Regions from separate parts of the Homo sapiens genome. Here region 2 is linked to region 1. A link means that fine-mapping ties the variant in region 1 to the expression of a gene that starts in the linked region. Tissue or cell type: testis. Region 1 holds a variant in brackets; the other region holds the start of a gene. All regions are shown on one strand. Distances are from middle to middle.

Evidence for each region. PIP is the estimated chance that this variant, and not a neighbour inherited with it, causes the effect.
Region 2: RPGRIP1 starts here. The variant in region 1 is fine-mapped to the expression of RPGRIP1 in testis (GTEx, PIP 0.97).

The regions. Positions count from the first base shown.
Region 1 is chr14:21,304,113-21,312,112 of GRCh38, reverse strand. It overlaps RPGRIP1 (RPGR interacting protein 1), which reads right to left. Exons shown (of 25, transcript NM_020366.4): 7 at 4,277-4,382; 8 at 1,506-1,529; 9 at 143-289. Among named protein-coding and RNA genes, the nearest start is that of RPGRIP1, 28 kb to the right of the region's middle. RefSeq lists enhancers at 2,720-2,879, 2,702-3,229. The variant T/G (reference allele first, on the strand shown) is at 3,752.
Region 2 is chr14:21,274,621-21,285,977 of GRCh38, reverse strand. RPGRIP1 (RPGR interacting protein 1) reads right to left here and starts at 5,895. Exons shown (of 25, transcript NM_020366.4): 1 at 5,819-5,895.

The DNA.
Region 1 (8,000 bases):
AATCTTAAGCAAATGATTTAACTACTCGGAGCTTCGTTTTTGTCATTTGAAAAAATGCAATACTCATATTGTTGCTAAGATACACATTCTAACATCCCTGAAGTTGAAATGTAGATGGTATCTTTCAACTATTATTATTTACCTCCTTCAGAGTCATCTGCAAGATAGACACATCTTCCAGTTGGCTCTTCAAGCTCACAGCCTTCTTGCTTTCTTCCTTCAGCTCTGCCCTGAGCTCATTCACTTGCTTGAGGAGGGCCTCATGGGCTGCACTCAGGATTCCCTGATTCTGGGTCAAAAGGAAAGTACCTCTGGGAATGGTCATATCACTCAGCACGAGTGGTCTCCAGACACCAGCAACCCTAGCATTCTCTAACAGATGTCACAAAGAATGACTTTGATTAATAGCTTATTACCTTTGTACTGTTCGTTAACCTTGTTTTTCACCCTAGCATTTCTCTGGAAGTATAATTTCCCTGGTAGGTAGGGTTTCCATTCTGGGCAATTGTAGTTCATCATTTGAGCTTTAATTTTCTTTTCTTGTATTTATTTATTTATTTATTTATTGAGACAGTCTCGCTCTGTTGCCCAGGCTGGAGTGCAATAGTGCTTGGCTCACTGCAACCTCTGCCTACCGGGTTCAAGCAATTCTCCTGCCTCAGCCTCCTGAGTAGCTGGGATTACAGGCATGAGCCACCACGCCCAGCTAATTTTTGTATTTTTAATAGAGACAGGGTTTCTCCATGTTGGCCAGGCTGGTCTCGAACTCCTGACCTTAGGTCATCCACCCGCCTCCGCCTCCCCAAGTGCTGGGATTACAGGCGTGAGCCACCGCGCCTGGCCCTTGAGCCTTAATTTTCTCAAGGTTCAAATTAATCCCTAGCTTTAAATTAGTTGCCACCTTCCAAAGCTGCCTTCACTTTCTAAGCTATTTGACTGCTTTTTTATGATGACTACGTTTGTACCTAGACAAGTGACATGTTAACTCCAGAAGTTCTGTGTGTGTTTCTGGCGGACTCCTCTGGTGAGGCACAGCTGGGTGGTCTCGTTTGGAACTCTGTCTTAGTGGTGATTCTTAAGCACAGACATTCACCTAGCTTCACATGCAGCCCACTCACAGTGGTGAATAGGGCCAAATATTTAAGACCATCTGAGAATACCTGCAACAACTTTGTTATATCTCATCACCTCACACATGCTAGAAGAATACTCTTAGGAAGTTTTGAGCAAATGCTATAATTTGCTCCAGCAATAGGCTTAAAAATACCATGCCAAATATTTCTCAACTACAATTTCATATTTCAATTTTTATGAAAACAGTGCAATAAGTATCTGTATCTTTTGATAATCATAATAGTATCATTTTTAACAGAAACTATATGACATAATAACATTGATTTAGTTAGCTAAATTCTGGTGTTATGTTACTTGGAGATGAACATAGATTTCTTTGGGTTTGATTATTCTGGTTACTAAGAAACAGAGACTCAATTCTCATTAAGTACCTTCTGGAGCAAGGTTTCGTATGCCTGGAAGAAAGAAATTATTATTATTTTATTGATTTATCAATTTCATGATATATTTATCACTGTAATATAATGCTTAACATTTTTAAAGACATTATAAAAATCCCACAAAACAAATCAATTTGTGTACTTGTTTACTAATTGTTGCTATTTTTCCCCTGCCCTAGCTTGCCAAGTAGTCTGTGACTGCAATCATTCACACCATTTCTCAAAAAAGAATGAAGGGTCATTTATTAACATTTGCATTGTACTTGGTGGATTATCCAAGAAAAATGTTTAATCTTAAATTAGGTACTGTTACTTAGCACACTTCAGAAAGATCTCTTCAGTTTTAGTAAAAAAAAAAGAATGATCATAACAACAGCTATAATTAGTTGAGTAGTTGCTATGTGTTACTATGTGTTTCATTACCTGCCACATCATGATCATTATAATCATTTCACACATATTATCTCATTTAATCCTTGTAGCAAATATGAGAGGTAAGTTTTCGTTTTTGTTTTTGAGACAGTCTCACTCTGTTGCCCAGGCTGGAGTGCTGCGGCACAATCTTGGCTCACTGCAACCTCGGCTTCCCAGGTTCAAGCAATTCTCCTTCCTCAACCTCCCAAGTAGCTGAGATTACAGGTGCCCCCCACCACACCTAATTTTTGTATTTTAGTAGAGACGGGGTTTCACCATGTTGGCCAGGCTGGTCTCAAACTCCTGACCTCAAGCGATCCACCCACCTCAGCCTCCCAAACTTTTTTTTTAAATTTATTTTTTATTTTTTAAAAAAGGTCAAATAATCTTGAGAGAGAAAAAAATTGATCATATCAACTTGCTTAAAACCCTTTCACATAGCTCTCTGCTGTTTGTAGGATAAAGTCTAAATTCCTAGCATGTTCTGTCTTTAATGACAACGAGAAAAAAAATTCTTAGTGTGTCCTTCATGACCAGACCTGATGTTTCTCACCTCTGCTCTCATGGAAAGCCCCCTCTTCTCTTACACACTTATTAACACAAGCTAATCTTTTAGTATTTCAGTATTTAACTCACAAATCTATTCCTTTATTAATCCTTTTCTTTTTTCTTTTTTTGAGACAAAGTCTCACGCTGAGGTGCCGTATCGGGATCTCGGCTCACTGCAACCTCTGCCTCCTGGGCTCAAGCACTCAAGCAATCCTCCTGCCTCAGCCTCCATAGTAGCTAGGACTACAGGCACACATCACGATGCCTGTCTAATTTTTCTATTTTTGATAGAGATGGGGTTTCGCCATGTTGTCTGGGCTGGTCTCGAATTCCTGAGCTCAAGTGATCCTCCCTCCTTGACCTCCCAAAGTGCTGGGATTACAGGCTCCAGCCACCGCACCCAGTCATTAATCCTTTTCTGATCTGGCACTGTTAAAGGAGTTATTAAAAATAATTTTAGGCAGATAGAGAGGAAAAGGGGTCCTTGGAAAGTTTTCTCGTCCTTTAAAGCAGCTCCAGAAACGTTTTTTGTCTAGCAGGAAAGCCCTGGCTCTTACAGCCGGGAAGGCAACCTTTGATATGCAAATACAGGTCTTTAGAAACTGGGTCCACCCAAACATGGCGATTCCCGCCCTTGTCTTCCTGTCCTTTCCCCGACCTGTACCTGGCAACATGGCCACCCCCACATATCCCCACGTGTGTAGAACATCATGGCGCCCTTCATTTGCATATTAAAAGACTAGGGTAGGAGGGCCAGTTTTTTCCACAGGCTACATGAGTGACATGCCTGGTCAAACCAATCCCCTGAGCCCTATGCAAATCAGACACTACCTCCTCCTGCCTACTCATATAAGCAGCCACTTTTCCCGGCACATGAGGTCTCCCCTCTCTGCTTTGGAGTCCTTCTCCCTCTGTCTCAGTACAGGGGAGCTTCTTCCGTCTTTCTTCTCCCTTGTTTCTTGCCTATTAAACTCTCCGCTCCTTAAAGCCGCTCCACCTGTGTCCGTGTCGTTTTATCTAATTCGCGTGAGACAAGAGCCCTGGTGTTCCTCCACTTATCAGCCATATCAGCACCTCACCCACTGGTGGGTCTGACTACTCTCTCTTTTGTGTCCTGCCCATACCCTGCATAGGATAGTTGAATTTGTTTACTTGTTTTCTCACTCCTATAAACTCCTTGAAGGCAGTTTTTTCTTACTTACCCTTGGAATCTTTGTATCCCAGTGCTTTGCAATTCCTGGTACTGGATAAATATTTGTTCAATAAAAGGATGG[T/G]GCTGACCTTACTTTGACCCTTGATACTCTATTTCCACCAATCAGATGTTAGTTTCTAATGTGTGCTAATGCTAAATATACTTACCTTGAGGGCTGTTGTCAGGCTTAAAAAAGATCATGACTGTAAATATCTGGGACAGAGTACAGCTCACAGAAAGTGCTAATTAAAAGGCTAGTTTCCTTCCCTTCCCTGTGACTGCTTTTGGCTTCCTAATTTAATCACATTCTGGTTGTGGTCTTCGTAGGGGACCGTAACCCTTACACAAGTTAACTCCACTTTATTTCACCTTAGCAGGCAGAGCTTGAGCCTTCCTCTTAATAGAGAACTAATGGGAAATACTGGGAAAAGCATAGACTCCGAGTTGTGAGGCTTGGATTTGAATATCACTTATAAATTGTGTGATATCACTTATAAATTGTCTTTCTGAATTGTGGCTTCTCATATTTAAAATGGAGAAAATAATATGAATCTCTTAATTGGGGTTTCCCCCCACCAAGAAAGCACAGCTGATGATGGCAACTCACCTCTTGAACTTCTGTTAATTGTGCTTTTGTCATAACCAATGAAGCATTTCTTTCATGTAAGAGCTTCTTAAGTCGAATCAGCTCTACCTTCTCTTTAATGGAAGCTCTGCAGAGAAAGGCGCTAAATTATTCTGTCTGAACATGGATAGAATTAAAGACATTTTCTCCTTGACTATGCCCTAGTAAGAATACCTCCCTCTTGTCTCTTGCCTTCCCGTCTTACCCACACTAGAACACAAGTATGTGGTGTATGTACAGTCTAGTAAATAATCTCCTTTCTCCCATTTCTCATCACGCCAGCCAAGATTTGATAGAGATCACTAACCTTAAGCTTATGTTATGAGAAAAGATAATAACTACTTTTTTAAATGATGGTGTTCATAATTTCCCACAAACCTTGCAATGTCAAGCTAGGTCTCAGCCGTTTCCTTAGAGAAACCAGTGAGGTTTGAACGTGCTAGAAAACTTAAAAAGAAGATTATGAACCAGGCACCGTGGCTCACGCCTATAATCCCAGCACTTTGGGAGGCTGAGGCGGGCAGATGGCCTGAGGTCAGGAGTTGGAGACCAGCCTGGGCAACATGGCAAAACCTTGTCTTTACTAAAAACACAAAAGTCAGATGGGTGTGGTGGCATAAGCCTGTCATCCCAGCTATGGACACTGGGCAAGAGAATCGCTTGAACTGCGGGAGGCGGAGGTTGCAGTGAGCTGAAATCAGCTTAGGCAACAGAGTGAGATTCTGTCTCAAAAAATAACAATAGTGGCCGAGTGCGGTGGCTCAGGCCTGTAATCCCAACACTTTGGGAAGTTGAGGCGGGCAGATCACGAGGTCAAGAGATTGAGACCATCCTGGCCAACATAGTGAGACCCCATCTCTACTAAAAATACAAAAATTAGCTGGGTGTGGTGGTGCGCACCTGTAGTCCCAGCTACTCAGGAGGCTGAAGCAGGAGAATTGCTTGAACCTGGGAGGGGGAGGTTGCAGTGAGCCGAGATTGCACCACTGCACTCCAGCCTGGCGACAACAGAGTGAGACTGTCTCAAAAAATAATGATAATAATAATAATAATAGTAAAATACACCCGGCACGGTGGCTCACGCTTATAATCCCAGCACTTTGGAAGGCTGAGGCGGGTGGATCACGAGGTCAAGAGATTAAGACCATCCTGGCCAACGTGGTGAAACCCCGTCTCTACTAAAAATACAAAAATTAGCTGGGCATGGTGGCGCACACCTGTAGTCCCAGCTACTCGGGAGGCTGAGGCAGGAGAATCACTTGAACCTGGGAGGTGGAGATTACAGTGAGCTGAGATCTCGCCACTGCACTCCAGCTTGGGTGACAGAGTGAGTCTCTGTCTCGGAAAATAAAAATAAAATAAAATAAAATAATAGAAAGAAGATTAGGCTGGGCGCAGGGGCTCACGCCTGTAATCCCAGCACTTTGGGAGGTCGAGGAAGGCGAATCACCTGAGGTCAGGAGTTCGAGACCAGCCTGGCCAACATGGTGAAACCCCCTCTCTACTAAAAATATAAAAATTAGCCAGGTGTGGTGGTGGGTGCCTGTAATCCCAGCTACTCAGGAGGCTGAGGCAGGAGAATTTGCTTGAACCCGGAAGATGGAGATTGCAGTGAGCTGACAAGGTGCCACTACACTTCAGCCTGGGCAACAAAGTGAGACTCTGTCTCAAAAAAAAAAAAAAAAAAAAAAAAAAAAAAAAAAAAAGACTATTATTCCTGAACCTAGGAGCTCACGTTTTCTTTATTGTTTGAAAGATTGAAAGAGATACTGGGGAGGATTTGGGTTCACTCCACTCTATCTCATTGATTCCCTGTCTAGCTGCTGATTAGAATAACCTGGAGAGATCTTAAAATTACACTGCCTGAATTCTACCCCCCAAATAATTGAAAGGGAATCTCAGAGATGGGGCCCAGGGATCTGTTATGGTCTTTTTTTGTTTTGTTTTGTTTTGTTTTTGAGACAGAGTCTTGCTCTGTTGCCCAGGCTGGAGTGCAGTAGCATAATCTTGGCCCAGTGCAACCCCTGCCTCTCGGGTTCAAGCTATTCGCCTGCCTCAGCCTCCCAAGTAGCTGGAATTACAGGCATGAGCCATCACACCCGGCTAATTTTGGTATTTTCAGTAAAGATGGGGATTCACCATGTTGGCCAGGCTGTTTTCGATCTCCTGACCACAAATGATCCACCCACCTTGGCCTCCCAAAGTACTGGGATTACAGGCATAAGCCACCGCACCCGGCCTGGATCTGTGGTTTTAAAATATCTCCAGGTTGAAAACTTATATCCATACAAAAAACGACACATAATGTTAATAGCAGCTTTATTCATAATTGCCAAAACTTGGAAGCAACTAAGACATCTTTCGGTAGCTGAATGGATAAATAAACTGGTACATGTAGACAATCGAATGTTATTTGGTGTTTTGAAAAAATGAGCTTTCAAACCTTAAAAGACATGGAGCAAGCTTAAATGCATATTACTAAGTGAAAGAAGCCAATTTGAAAAGGCCACATACTGTGTAATCCCAACTATATGACATTCTAGAAGAGGCAAAACTGGAGACAGTAAAAAGATCAGTGGTTGCCAGGACTGGAGGTAAAAGACATGACTAGGTGGAACACAGAGGACTTTTGGGGGAGTAAAGCTATTCTGTATGATGCTATAATGATGGATACATGTCCTTACACATTTGTCAAAACCCATAGAATGTACAACACCGGCCAGGCGCAGTGGCTTACGCCTGTAATCCCAGCACTTTGGGAAGCTGAGACAGGCGGATTACGAGGTCAGGAGATCGAGACCATCCTGGCTAACATGGTGAAACCCCGTCTCTACTAAAAATACAAAAAAATTAGCCGGGCATGGTGGCGGGCGCCTGTAGTCCCAGCTACTCAGGAGGCTGAGGCAGGAGAACGGCATGAACCCAGGAGGCAGAGCTTGCAGTGAGCCGAGATCACGCCACTGCCCTCCAGCCTGGGCAACTGAGCGAGACTCCATCTCAAAAAAAAAAAAAGAATGTACAACACCAAGAATGAACCCTAATGTAAACTATTAAATGATGGTCAGGTGATAATGATGTGTCAATGTAGTTTCACTGATTGTAACAAATGCACCACTCTGGTACGGGGTGCTGATAGTTGGGGAGGCTGTGTGTGTATGGAGGCAATGGGTATACAGGAACTCTATTTCCTGCTTAATTTTGCTATAAAACTAAAACTTGTCTGAAAAATACATTTTTAAAAAAGTTTTCCAGGAATTTATGCACAGAGAGGGCTAAGAATCCCTATCTGGTGATGAGGATGAAGTCGTTTTCCTTCTATATAGTGAGGCAGCAAATATCCTTTTATACATAAACTTATCTCCTTTAGGTTAATTTCTTTCTTTCTTTCTTTCTTTCTTTCTTTCTTTCTTTCTTTCTTTCTTTCTTTCTCTCTCTCCTTCCTCCCTCCCTTCCTTCCTTCCTTCCCTCCCTCCCTCCTTCCTTCTTTCCTCTTTTTTTTTTTTTTGACAGAGTTTTGCTCTTGTTGCCCAGGCTGGAGTGCAATGGTGCAATCTCGGCTCACTGCAACCTCCGCCTCCCAGGTTCAAGGGATTTTCCTGCCTCAGCCTCCTGAGTAGCTGGGATTACAGGCACCGGCCACCATACCTGGCTAGTTTTTTTGTATTTTTAGTACAGACGGGGTTTCACCACGTTGGCCAGGCTGGTC
Region 2 (11,357 bases), 28 kb after region 1:
TAGCCTGTCTCCGCCACTAAAATTCAAGTGATCTGTGTCTCTTTCCTCAACTACCACATTTTTTAATGCTCTCCCCATTTTCCTCTCCCATCCTCCCTTATTTCTGCCTGAAACACCCAGAGTGACCTGTATAAAACAACCCAGTTCATAACATTTCTTTGCCAAAAGTCTCCAAATGGCTTTTCATTACACTTAAAGTAAAATTTACACTTTTTTTCCAGGGCCTGTAAAGCCCAACCTCAGCTGATCCGCTTCTTATTCCTCCAATCACACCTTGTACCTTCCTTCCTCTAGCTCACAACACTCCTCACCACTTGCCCTCTCTTTGCTCTCCCAACCATCAAGCTCTTTCTTGCTCTTTTTTTTTTTTTTGGAGATGGAGTCTCACTCTGTCACCCAGGCTGGAGTGCAGTGGCGCGATCTCAGCTCACTGTAACCTCCACCTCCCGAGTTCAAGTGATTCTCCTGCCTCAGCCTCCTGAGTAGCTCGGACTACAGGCACGTGCCACCATGCCCGGCTAATTTTTTGTGTTTTTAGTAGAGACGGGGTCTCACCATGTTAGCCAAGATGGTCTTGATCTCCTGATCTTGTGATCTGCCTGCCTTGGCCTCCCAAAGTGCTGGGATTACAGGCTTGAGCCACTGCACCTGGCCTCCTTCTTGCTCTTTATTTGGCTGACTCCATCTGATCCTTTGGTCTCTCAAGCATCTTTTCATTTGCCAGGAGGCCTTTCTCTGACTTTGGTAGCTGAACTGAGCACTTCCCCTTCTCTTACCAGTCTTATACTCTGTCACCTCACCCTGTTTATTTCCCTTGTGACATTTACTATACACAGAAACTACCTTCATTTATTTATACTAGTTTATTGTCTGTCCCCTCTCACTAAAACATAGTGACTTTGAAGGCAGAAAAATGGTTTATCTTGTTTACCTCTATAGATGCAGTACCCGAACAGTTATTGGCACATAGCAGGTACTCAACAAATAAACACCGAATGTATGAAAAGTAGAATGAACGAACAAGAGAGAGAATGACACTGAGGGACTGAAGTGAGTCAAAAAGTTCTTAAAGCATTCTGTTCTTGATTCCAGTCTTTTCCAGTTTTGTCTCCAAAATTTATGTCTCAGCTGGGAGCAGTGGTTCACGCCTGTATTCGCAGTACTTTGGGAGGCTGAGGCGGGCAAATCATCTGAGGTCAGGAGTTCAAGACCAGCTTGGCCAACATGGTGAAACCCTGTCTCTACTAAACATACAAAAATTTGCTGGGCGCGGTGACATGTGCCACGACAGAGTGATCCCAGTTACTCAGGAGTCTAAAGCAGGAGAATAGTTTGAACCCGGGAGGCGGAGGATGCAGTGAGCAGAGATCGTGCCACTGTACTCCAGCCTGGGTGACAAGAGAGAGATTCCATCTTCAAAAAAAAAAAAAAAAAAAATTTAGTTCTCCAGCCTTGACTTTCAGATTTGTACAAATTCTTTTTAAACATTTCCCCTTTCAAATGTTTCCCCTAGTAAACATACTAGACAACTGAAACTCACCTTTCCCAAAGAGGAATTGTAATTTCTCTTACCAGTCTGATTGTTTCCCAGTCTTTCCCTATTTCCATAAATGCCACTGTCTGGCTCTGTTCCTACCTTTAGGTTCTATAGTAGAGTCTTGTGCCCTATACAACAAATTCTCCCTTTTTGTTGAAGCTAGCTTGACTTGTCAACTGGAGAAGGGTGTTCAGAAGCTTATTTTGAACAAACAGAGAAATATAAAGAAGAAAGCAAAAAGTATAATGGAGAAATTCTATCACCTAGAGAAAATGTAAACATTGTATTGATCTGCTTTCCGGGCAATTTAACTTGAATTGGATAATTCATACTCTGTTCTGTAACATTTCATTTTTAAAAATCACAATAAATGGAGAGCATCTTTCCAATGTCATAGTCTTAAATAGATCTATACAGATTTCATAGCATGCCTATTTTAAGAAAGCTGAATAATCACCCCAAAGTTTAAGTACTTTCGCATGTTAGACCTAGGATTACAAGTAAATCTCAGGCCAGGCACGGTGGCTCACGTTTATAATCCCAACACTTTGGGAGGCTGAGGCGGATGGATCACCTGCGGCCAGGAGTTCGAGACTAGCCCAGCCACATGACAAAAGTTAGCTGGGCATGGTGACAGGCGCCTGTAATCCGGCTACTCGGGAGGCTGAGGCAGGAGAATCGCTTCAACCCGGCAGGTGGAGATTGCAGTGAGCCAAGATCGTGCCACTGCACTCCACTCCAGCCTGGGCAAAGCAGAGTGAGACTCTGTCTAAAAAAAAAAAAAAAGTAAATCTGCATTTAGTTTACAAGTAAATCTCCATTTGAAGTACCATATATAGGGGCTGGGCACAGTGGCTCATGCCTGTAATCCCAGCACTTTGGGAGGCCGAGGCGGGCAGATCACAAGGTCAGGAGTTTGAGACCAGCCTGGCTAACATGGCGAAACCCCATTTCTACTAAAAATACAAAAATTAGCTGGGTGTAGTGGCTCATGCCTGTAGTCCCAGCTGCTCTGGAGGCTGAAGCAGGAGAATCGCTTGAGCACAGGAGGCGGAGATTGCAGTGAGCCAAGATTACACCATTGCACTCCAGCCTGGGCGACAGTGTGAGACAGCTTCTCAAAAAATAATAATAATAAATAAAATAAATAGAGTAGCATCTACAGGTTTACTTAGTCACCCACCTTCCTAGTTTCCTACTGTAGAAAAGTAATGTGAAGGAAAAGGAAAGGTGACTGCATCATAAGCTTGGTCCTCTGGACCTGAAGCCATTTGCAAAAATGGAGCTGTAGTAGAAGGGATGCTGTTGTTCTTAATATCTGGGCCCAGAGCACATTGACGCACCACCAATGCTATATGGCACTATGGAGCAATTGAAAAGTATCATTAAAACTGAAGTCACAGAAGCTCTAAGAATGAAATGGAGTTTATTGGAATGCTAGAGAAGAAAAGCCAGTTGAGACTGTCAGTGAAGGCGTGTTGAACATCCAGTGGCCAGATTTAATTTCTCAGGAATGAAAAAGTGGAATGTAGGCCGGGCACAGTGGCTCACGCCTGTAATCCCAGCACTTTGGGAGGCCGAGATGGGTGGATCACAAGGTCAGGAGATCAAGACTATCCTGGCTAACGTGGTGAAACTCCATCTCTACTACAAAATACAAAAAATTAGCCGGGTGTGGTGGCACGCGCCTGTAGTCCCAGCTACTGGGGAGGCTGAGGCAGGAGAATGGCGTGAACCTGGGAGGCGGAGCTTGCTGTGAGCCGAGATCACGCCACTGCACTCCAGCCTGGGAGACAGAGCGAGACTCTGTCTCAAAAAAAAAAAAAAAAAAAAAATGGAATGTAGATTCTAAAAGGGTTTATCAATTGTTTTGAACTCAACAGGATGAAAGACTGAAGAAACTTCCACCCGGCGTGGTGGCTCACGCCTGTAATCCCAGCACTATGGGAGGCTGAGGCGGGCTGATCATGAGGTCAGGAGATCGAGACCATCCTGGTCAACATAGTGAAACCCCGTCTCTACTAAAATACAAAAAAATTAGCCAGGCATGGTGGTGCGTGCCTGTAGTCCCAGGTACTCAGGAGGCTGAGGCAGGGGAATTGCTTGAACCTGGGAGGCAGAGATTGCAGTGAGGTGAGATCACGCCACTGCACTCCAGCCGGGTGACAGAGCAAGACTCCGTCTTAAAAAAAAAAAAATTTCCTTGCAGTGATATTCAGAATTGCAGTGCACTTGGACAAGTATAGGTTAGTGAGGGTGAAGAACCCTTTACTAGTGATAGATGGATAGACGTATAAAGCCAGCTTGATGACATCAGCAATTAAAATTTTCTTTTCCTCTTTTTTCGAGACAGAGTATCACATTGTTGCCTGGGCTGGAGTGCAATGTTGCAATCTCAGTTTACTGCAACCTCCGCTTCCCGGGTTCAAGCGATTCTCCTGTCTCAGCCTCCAGAGTAGCTGGGATTACAGGCACCTGCCACCATGCCCAGCTAATTTTTTGTATTTTTTAGTAGAGACAAGATTTCACAATTTTGGCCAGGCTGGTCTCGAACTCCGGACCTTGGGATCCGCCAGCCTCGGTCTCCCAACGTGCTGGGATTACAGGCATGAGCCACCCTGCCCAGACTTCTTTTTTTTCTTTTTTACACTCTGTATCACTGGGCAAGCATTTAAAATTTTGTAGCCAGTTCCCCTTACTCTGATTATTATTATTATTATTATTATTATTATTATTTATTTTTTTTTTTTTTGAGACAAGGTCTCACTCTGTTGCCCAGGCTGGAGTACAGCGGTATGCTCTCGCCTCACTGCAACCTCTGCCTCCAGGGTTCAAGCAATTCTCATGTCTCAGCCCCCCAGGCAGCTGCAATTACAGGCGCAAGCCGCCACGCCCAGCTAATTTTTCTATTCTTAGTAGAGACAGGGTTTTGCCATGTTGGCCAGACTGGTCTTGAACTCCTGATCTCAAGTGATCCACCCGCCTCAGCCTCCCAAAATGCTGAGATTACAGGTGTGAGCCAACACGCCTGGGCCAAGAGTAGATTTTTAAGTGTTCTCATCAAACACAAAAAATTGATGAGCATATGAGGTAATACATATTTTAATTAGCCCAAGATTGGGCAGGTGTGGTGGCTCACGCCCGTAATCCCAGCACTTTGGGAGGCCAAGGCGGGCAGATCACAAGATCAAGAGATCAAGACCATCCTGGCCGTGGCCAACATGGTAAAACCCTGTCTCTACTAAAAATGCAAAAATTAGCTGGGCATGGTGGTGCGCACCTGTAGTCCCAGCTACTCGGGAGGTTGAGGCAGGAGAATTGTTTGAACCCAGGAGGCAGAGGTTGCAGTGAGCCGAGATTGAGCCACTGCACTCCAGCCTCACGAGAGAGAGAGATTCTGTCTCAAAAAAAAAAAAAAGAAAAGCCCAAGGTAGCCATTTTCCACTCTCTCTATATATATATTTCAAAGCAACAAATTTTACACAATAAATATATACAATTTCAAATTGTCAATTAAAAATTAATTAATTTGAAAAGGAGTTTTATTCATTCTGCAGATAGTGGATACATTTCTGAGCAAAAGAGCAATATAATTAGAGCTATGGAAGAGCATTAGGAAGATTCATCTACTATTAGTGATTTGGAAATTGGGGAGAGAACAGTGTTAAGAGGATATTGCTATAGTTCAGGCAAGAAGTCTTGAACTAGGGAAGGAGGGGGGTGGGGGATGGAAGAATAGGATGGATCATGAAGACACTGAGGAAGGAGAATCAAAAGATGTGACAACTGGTTGGACGTGAGATAGAGTTAAGAGGGTGACAGGATTAAAGATGACTTGGTAATGTTGTGCTGGATGCCTGGGAGACTGGTGGTACAATAGAAAATGAATAAACCAGGCCAGGCGCGGTGGCTCATGCCAGTAATCCCAGCACTTTGGGAGGCCGAGGCGGGTGAATCACCTGAGGTCAGGAGTTCAAGACCAGCCTGGCAAACATGGTGAAACCCCGTCTCTACTAAAAACACAAAAATTAGCCGGGCAATGGTGGCGCATGCCTGTAGTCCCCAGCTACTTGGGAGGCTGAGGCAGGAGAATCGCTTGAACCTGGGAGGCAGAGGTTGCAGTGAGCAGAGATAGTGCCGGTGCACTCCAGCCTGGGCGACAGAGTAAGACTCTGTCTCAAAAAAAAAAAAAAAAAAAAGAATAAACTTATTTCATTCTTCTCAAAAACACCCCTAGGGAAGACATAGGAAACTATAAATATGCATCAGATAGAAACTTACAGTTCTTGCTTGCTCCAGATAGCTGTCGCTAATTCTTTTCTCTCAATGTTCTGGTGTCCTTTAGTACTCTAGGTTCCAATAAGCTTGTCCTTCTGGCTTGTTAAAAGAGGAGCTAATCCAGTTCTGTTTAGCTTTTAAGATGTTAACTCTTTGTAGATCAGAGTGTGTGAAGGCTGTGCTTTTTCTCTATGCATGTTTGACTTGGAGAAAGAGCAGCTTAAAGGGTCCTTAACAGATCCACTTCTCAACTAAAACTAAAGCTGAGAACACATTTGCGGGATTTGAGATTAAAAGAAATTTGTTGGTATTCAGAGGATGATCTTTAAATCTTTTATTTATTTATTTATTTATTTTGAGACAGAGTTTCACTCTTGTTGCCCAGGCTGGAGTGCAATGGCGCGATCTCGGCTCACCGCAACCTCTGCCTCCCAGGTTCAAGCAATTCTCCTGCCTCAGCCTCCCGAGTAGCTGGGATTACAGGCATGCACCACCACAGCCAGCTCACTTTGTATTTTTAGTAGAGATGGAGTTTCTCAATGTTGAGGCTGGTCTCGAACTCCTGACCTCAGGTGATCTGCCCGCCTTGGCCTCCCAAAGTGCTGGGATTACAGGCTTGAGCCACCGCGCCCGGCCGATATTCTTTAAATCTTTATCTGAAGGGCAACAACAGTGGGAGTTGTTCTGAAGCCCTGAGATCCCTTTGAAGAGAACAAACACTGCACCGTTGGTGGGATCAACATGCCTATTCAGTCCACATGTGCCAGTGCTTTCGAGTAAGAGAATGTATATCTTCCATTTCACCGTGACCACCGTTTTGAAACCAAACTTTGGGATGTAATTATGAAGCAATAGGATTTGATATAAGAAAATTAAATGTTCTTAAAAATTCTGCAAGGCTGGTCACTGCATTCATATTATATATTAAGTGGAATACGGTCTCAATTGTTACATAAAATCCTCTTTATTTATTTATTTATTTTGAGATGCAGTTTCGCTCTTGTTACCTAGGCAGGAGTGCAATGGTGCGATCTCGGCTCACTGCAACCTCTGCCTCCCGGGTTCAAGCAATTCTCCTGCCTCAGCCTCCTGAGTAGCTGGGATTACAGGCATGCGCCACCACGCCCAGCTAATTTTGTATTTTTACTAGAGACAAGGTTTCTCCATGTTGGTCAGGCTGGTCTCGAACTCCCGACCTCAGGTGATCCACCTACCTTGGCCTCCCAAAGTGCTGGGATTACAGGCCTGAGCCACCACGACTGGCCTAAATCCTCTCTTTAATGCACTGAATGGGTGCATTGAGAAAGCTCCATTCTGGTTATTGGCATGAGGTTCGGGGATTTCCAGGAGGATGAACACATAGTTAATGGGCCCCATGTGACTTCCTCTAAATCCCATGAAATAATAAAATAAAATAAAATAAAATAAAGCTAGGGAGACAATTAGGAAGTAGAGAAAGTATCCAGGACACATACATTTCCCAGTGAAGAGAGGAAAATTCAATATAATATTTTACCAGGTTTAAATGACAGATTTATAAAATTTAAAAGCTGGGCTTTTATGCACTTAAGGTTGCTTCTTGCCCAAGCTATTTCTTGATAAATCTGGGATTTTCTGTCCTTTTTTAAGATGCTCTAGCCAGAGACAGTGCAGGACAAAATTAATTTTGAAGTAAGCCAAGTTTGTGTTTGATAATCGTGTTCTCTTTTCTGAACCTCTGACTTTTGTTAATTTTTTTTTTTTTTTTTTTTTGAGACGGAGTTTTGCTCTTGTTGCCCAGGCTGGTGTGCAATGGCACAATCTTGGCTCACTGCAACCTCTGCCTCCCGGGTTCAAGAGATTCTCCTGCCTCAGTCTCCCTAGTGGCTGGGATTACAGGCACCCGCCACCACACCCAGCTAATTTTTTGTATTTTTAGTAGAGATGAGGTTTCACTATGTTGGCCTGGCTGGTCTTGACCTCCTGACCTCAGGTGATTCACCCGCCTTAGCCTCCCACAGTGCTGGTATTACAGGCGTGAGCCACCATTCCCGGCTGACTTTTGTTAATTTTTAAAACATCTCCTACCTCTTTCAGGCAACCAGTTTCCCTTAACATTCTCATTACATCTTGGAGTGAATTTACGTGATACTTTTTCCACTAGGCTTAATGTACTTCTCAATGTAGACAGTAAGACTTTGTTCTGTGTTAAAGAAATTTCAGGCCGGGCACGGTGGCTCACACCTGCAATCCCAGCACTTTGGGAGGCTGAGGTGGGTGGATCACCTGAGGTCAAGAATTCGAGACCAGCCTGACCAACATGGTGAAATCCCATCTCTACTAAAAATACAAACATTAGCTGGGCGTGGTGGCAGGCACCTGTAATCCCAGCTACTCACCAGGCTGAGGCAGTGAGAATCACTTGAACCCCAGAGGCGGAGGTTGCAGTGAGCCGAGACTGCACCATTGCACTCCAGCCTGGGCAACAAGAGCAAAACTCCATCTCAAAAAAAAACAAAAAGAAATTTCAGTCATTGGCCAGGCTTGGTGGCTCACACCTGTAATCCCAGAACTTTGGGAGGCCGAAGTGGGTGGATCACCTAAGGTCAGGAGTTTGAAACCAGCCTGGCCAACATGGTGAAACCCTGTCTCTACTAAAGATACAAAAACAATTAGCTGCGCGTGGTTGTGAGTGCCTGTAATCCCAGCTACTCTGGAGGCTGAAGCAGGAGAATCACTTGAACCGGGGAGGCGGAGGTTGCAGTGAGCCGAGATTGCGCCACTGCACTCCAGCCTGGGCGACAGAGCAGAACTCTGTCTCAAAAAAAAAAAAAAAAAACAGAAATTTCAGGTCAGGTGCTGTGGCTCATGCCTATAATCCCTGCACTTTGGGAGGCCGAGGTGGGCGAATCATGGAGGTGGAGGTTGCAGTGAACCGAGATCTTGCCACTGCACCCCAGCCTGGGCAACGAAGCGAGACTCCAGCTCAAAAAAAAAAAAAAAAAGTTAAAATACAAAGGTCCCCTGAGGCCTGGCATGGTGGCTCGCATCTGTAATCCTAGCACTTTGGGAGGTTAAGGCAGCCAATGACTTGAGGCCAGGAATTCAAGACCAGCCTGACCAACATGGCAGAATCTGTCTTACTAAAAATACAAAGAAATTAGCCAGACGTGGTGGCGCATACTTGTAATCCCAGCTATCCGGGAGGGTGAGGTGGGAAGATGGATTAGATCCGGGCAGTGGAGGGTGCGGTGAGCCGAGATGGCGCCACTGCAATCCAGCCTGGGCAACAGAGGGAGACCCTGTAAAAAAAAAAAAAAAAAAAAAAAGGCCAGGTGCGGTGGCTCACTCCTGTAATCCCAGCACTTTGGGAGGTTGAGGCGAGTGGACCATGATGTCAGGAGATTGAGACCATCCTGGCCAACATGGTGAAACCCCGTCTCTACTAAAAATACAAAAATTAGCTGGGCTTGGTGGTGCCTGCCTATAATCCCAGCTACTCAGGAGGCTGAGGAAGTAGATTAGCTTGCACCAGGGAGTCGGAGGTTGCAGTGTGTGGAGATGGCACCACTGCACTCCAGCCTGGCGACAGGGCAAGACTCCATCTCAAAAACAAAAGAAAAACCAAACAAGCCAGGTGCAGTGGCTCACTCCTGTAATCCCAACAGTTTGGGAGGCAGAGGCGGGTGGATCACTTGAGGTCAGGAGTTCGAGACCAGCCGGGACAACATGGCGAAAACCCGTCTCTACTGAAAATACAGGCCAGGCGCGGTGGCTCACGCCTGTAATCCCAGCACTTTGGGAGGCCGAGACGGGTGGATCACAAGGTCAGGAGATCCAGACCATCCTGGCTAACACCGTGAAACCCCGTCTCTACTAAAAATACAAAAAATTAGCCGGGCGCGGTGGCAGGCGCCTGTAGTCCCAGCTACTCGGGAGGCTGAGGCAGGAGAATGGCGTGAACCTGGGTGGTGGAGCTTGCAGTGAGCCGAGATCGCGCCACTGCACTCCAGCCTGGGCGACAGAGCGAGACTCCATCTCAAAAAAAAACAAAACAAAAATTAGCTGAGCGTGGTGGCGCACTCCTGTATTTCCAGCATCTGGAGGCTGAGGCAGGAGAATCACTTGAACCTGGGAGAGGGAGGCTGCAGTGAGCCCAGATCGCACCTCTGCACTCCAGCCTGGGCTACAGAGGGAGACTCCCTCTCAAAAAAAAAAAAAAAAAAAAAAAAAAGGAAAAGACCCTGCATAAATTTTATATTTGAAAATGTGGGCCAGATAGTTCACATAGTATTTTTATGCCATCTAGATTTGCTCAAGAGCTCAGTTTGTACCATAATAGTAAAATAAGCACTGACAATGAAATGTGACCTTTGTCAACTAAAAAAGCATTTTGTAAGTTGTACAAAGATTAGCTTAATGAAAAATTACCAGAGGATAAAATCCTGTGCTTCAGAGCCAGAATGAGAACAGATGGCAAATACGTTAAAGAAGGCTTAACCTACAGGAAGCCAGATTTAGGTCACTGCTGAGATGAAAATTAGCAGAGGAACAAAGAAGACAAAGGAAAAGTAGGAGAAAAACATTAAGTAGAAAGTGAAAAGAGAAATTGAAGAAACAAGAAAGAAATTAGAAGTTTATATGTTCCTTTTTTCAGAAATGAGGTCTCACTATGTTGTTCAGGCTGGAGTGCAGTGGCTGCTCACAGACACAATCATAGCATACTGCCAGGAACTCCGGGGGTCAAGGGATTCTCCTGCCTCAGCCTCCTGAGTGGCTGCGACTACAGGCACCCACTACCATGCCCCACTATTTTTCATTAAAAAAAAATATTTTGGCCGGGCGTGGTGGCTCACGCCTATAACCCCAGCACTTTGGGAGGCCGAGGTGGGCATACCACGAGGTCAGGAGTTTGAGACCGCTTGGCCAACATGGTGAAACCCCATCTCTACTAAAAATACAAAAATTAGCTGGGCATGATGGCACAAGCCTATAGTCCCAGCTACTTGGGAGGCTGAGGCAGGAGAATCGCTTGAACCTGGGAGGTGGAAGCTGCAGTGAGCCGAGATCGTGCCACTGCACTCCAGCCTGGCGACTGAGCGATACTCTGTCTCAAAAAAAAAAAAAAAAAAAATTTAAGAGATGTTGCCCAAGCTGGAGGATGTTTTTAAAATAAAGTCACTTATTTTCAAATATCTTCTGAAGGGGCTTGAAGTCTCTATTATATAGGTCTCATAGCACCTTCTTACTTATTTTCAGTAGCACTCACAATTTAGTATAAACAATTAATTGAGTAATTATCCATTTAATATTTGATTCTGTTCTGAAGGGCAGGGCCATGTCTGTTTTGTTTACTTCTATGCTCTTGTGGCATCAGCTAATTACATAGTACGTTTAACAAGTATTGTTGAGTGAATGGGTAGGATTTTCCCACCTTGGCATACATTACATTATTAATAATAGTGTAATGGTTATTTGCATATCCTCTAGAACTAGACCTCCTAGCATTAGAATCTTTTTTTTTTCTCTTTTTGAGACACGGTCTTGCTGCTGGTAGCTAAAT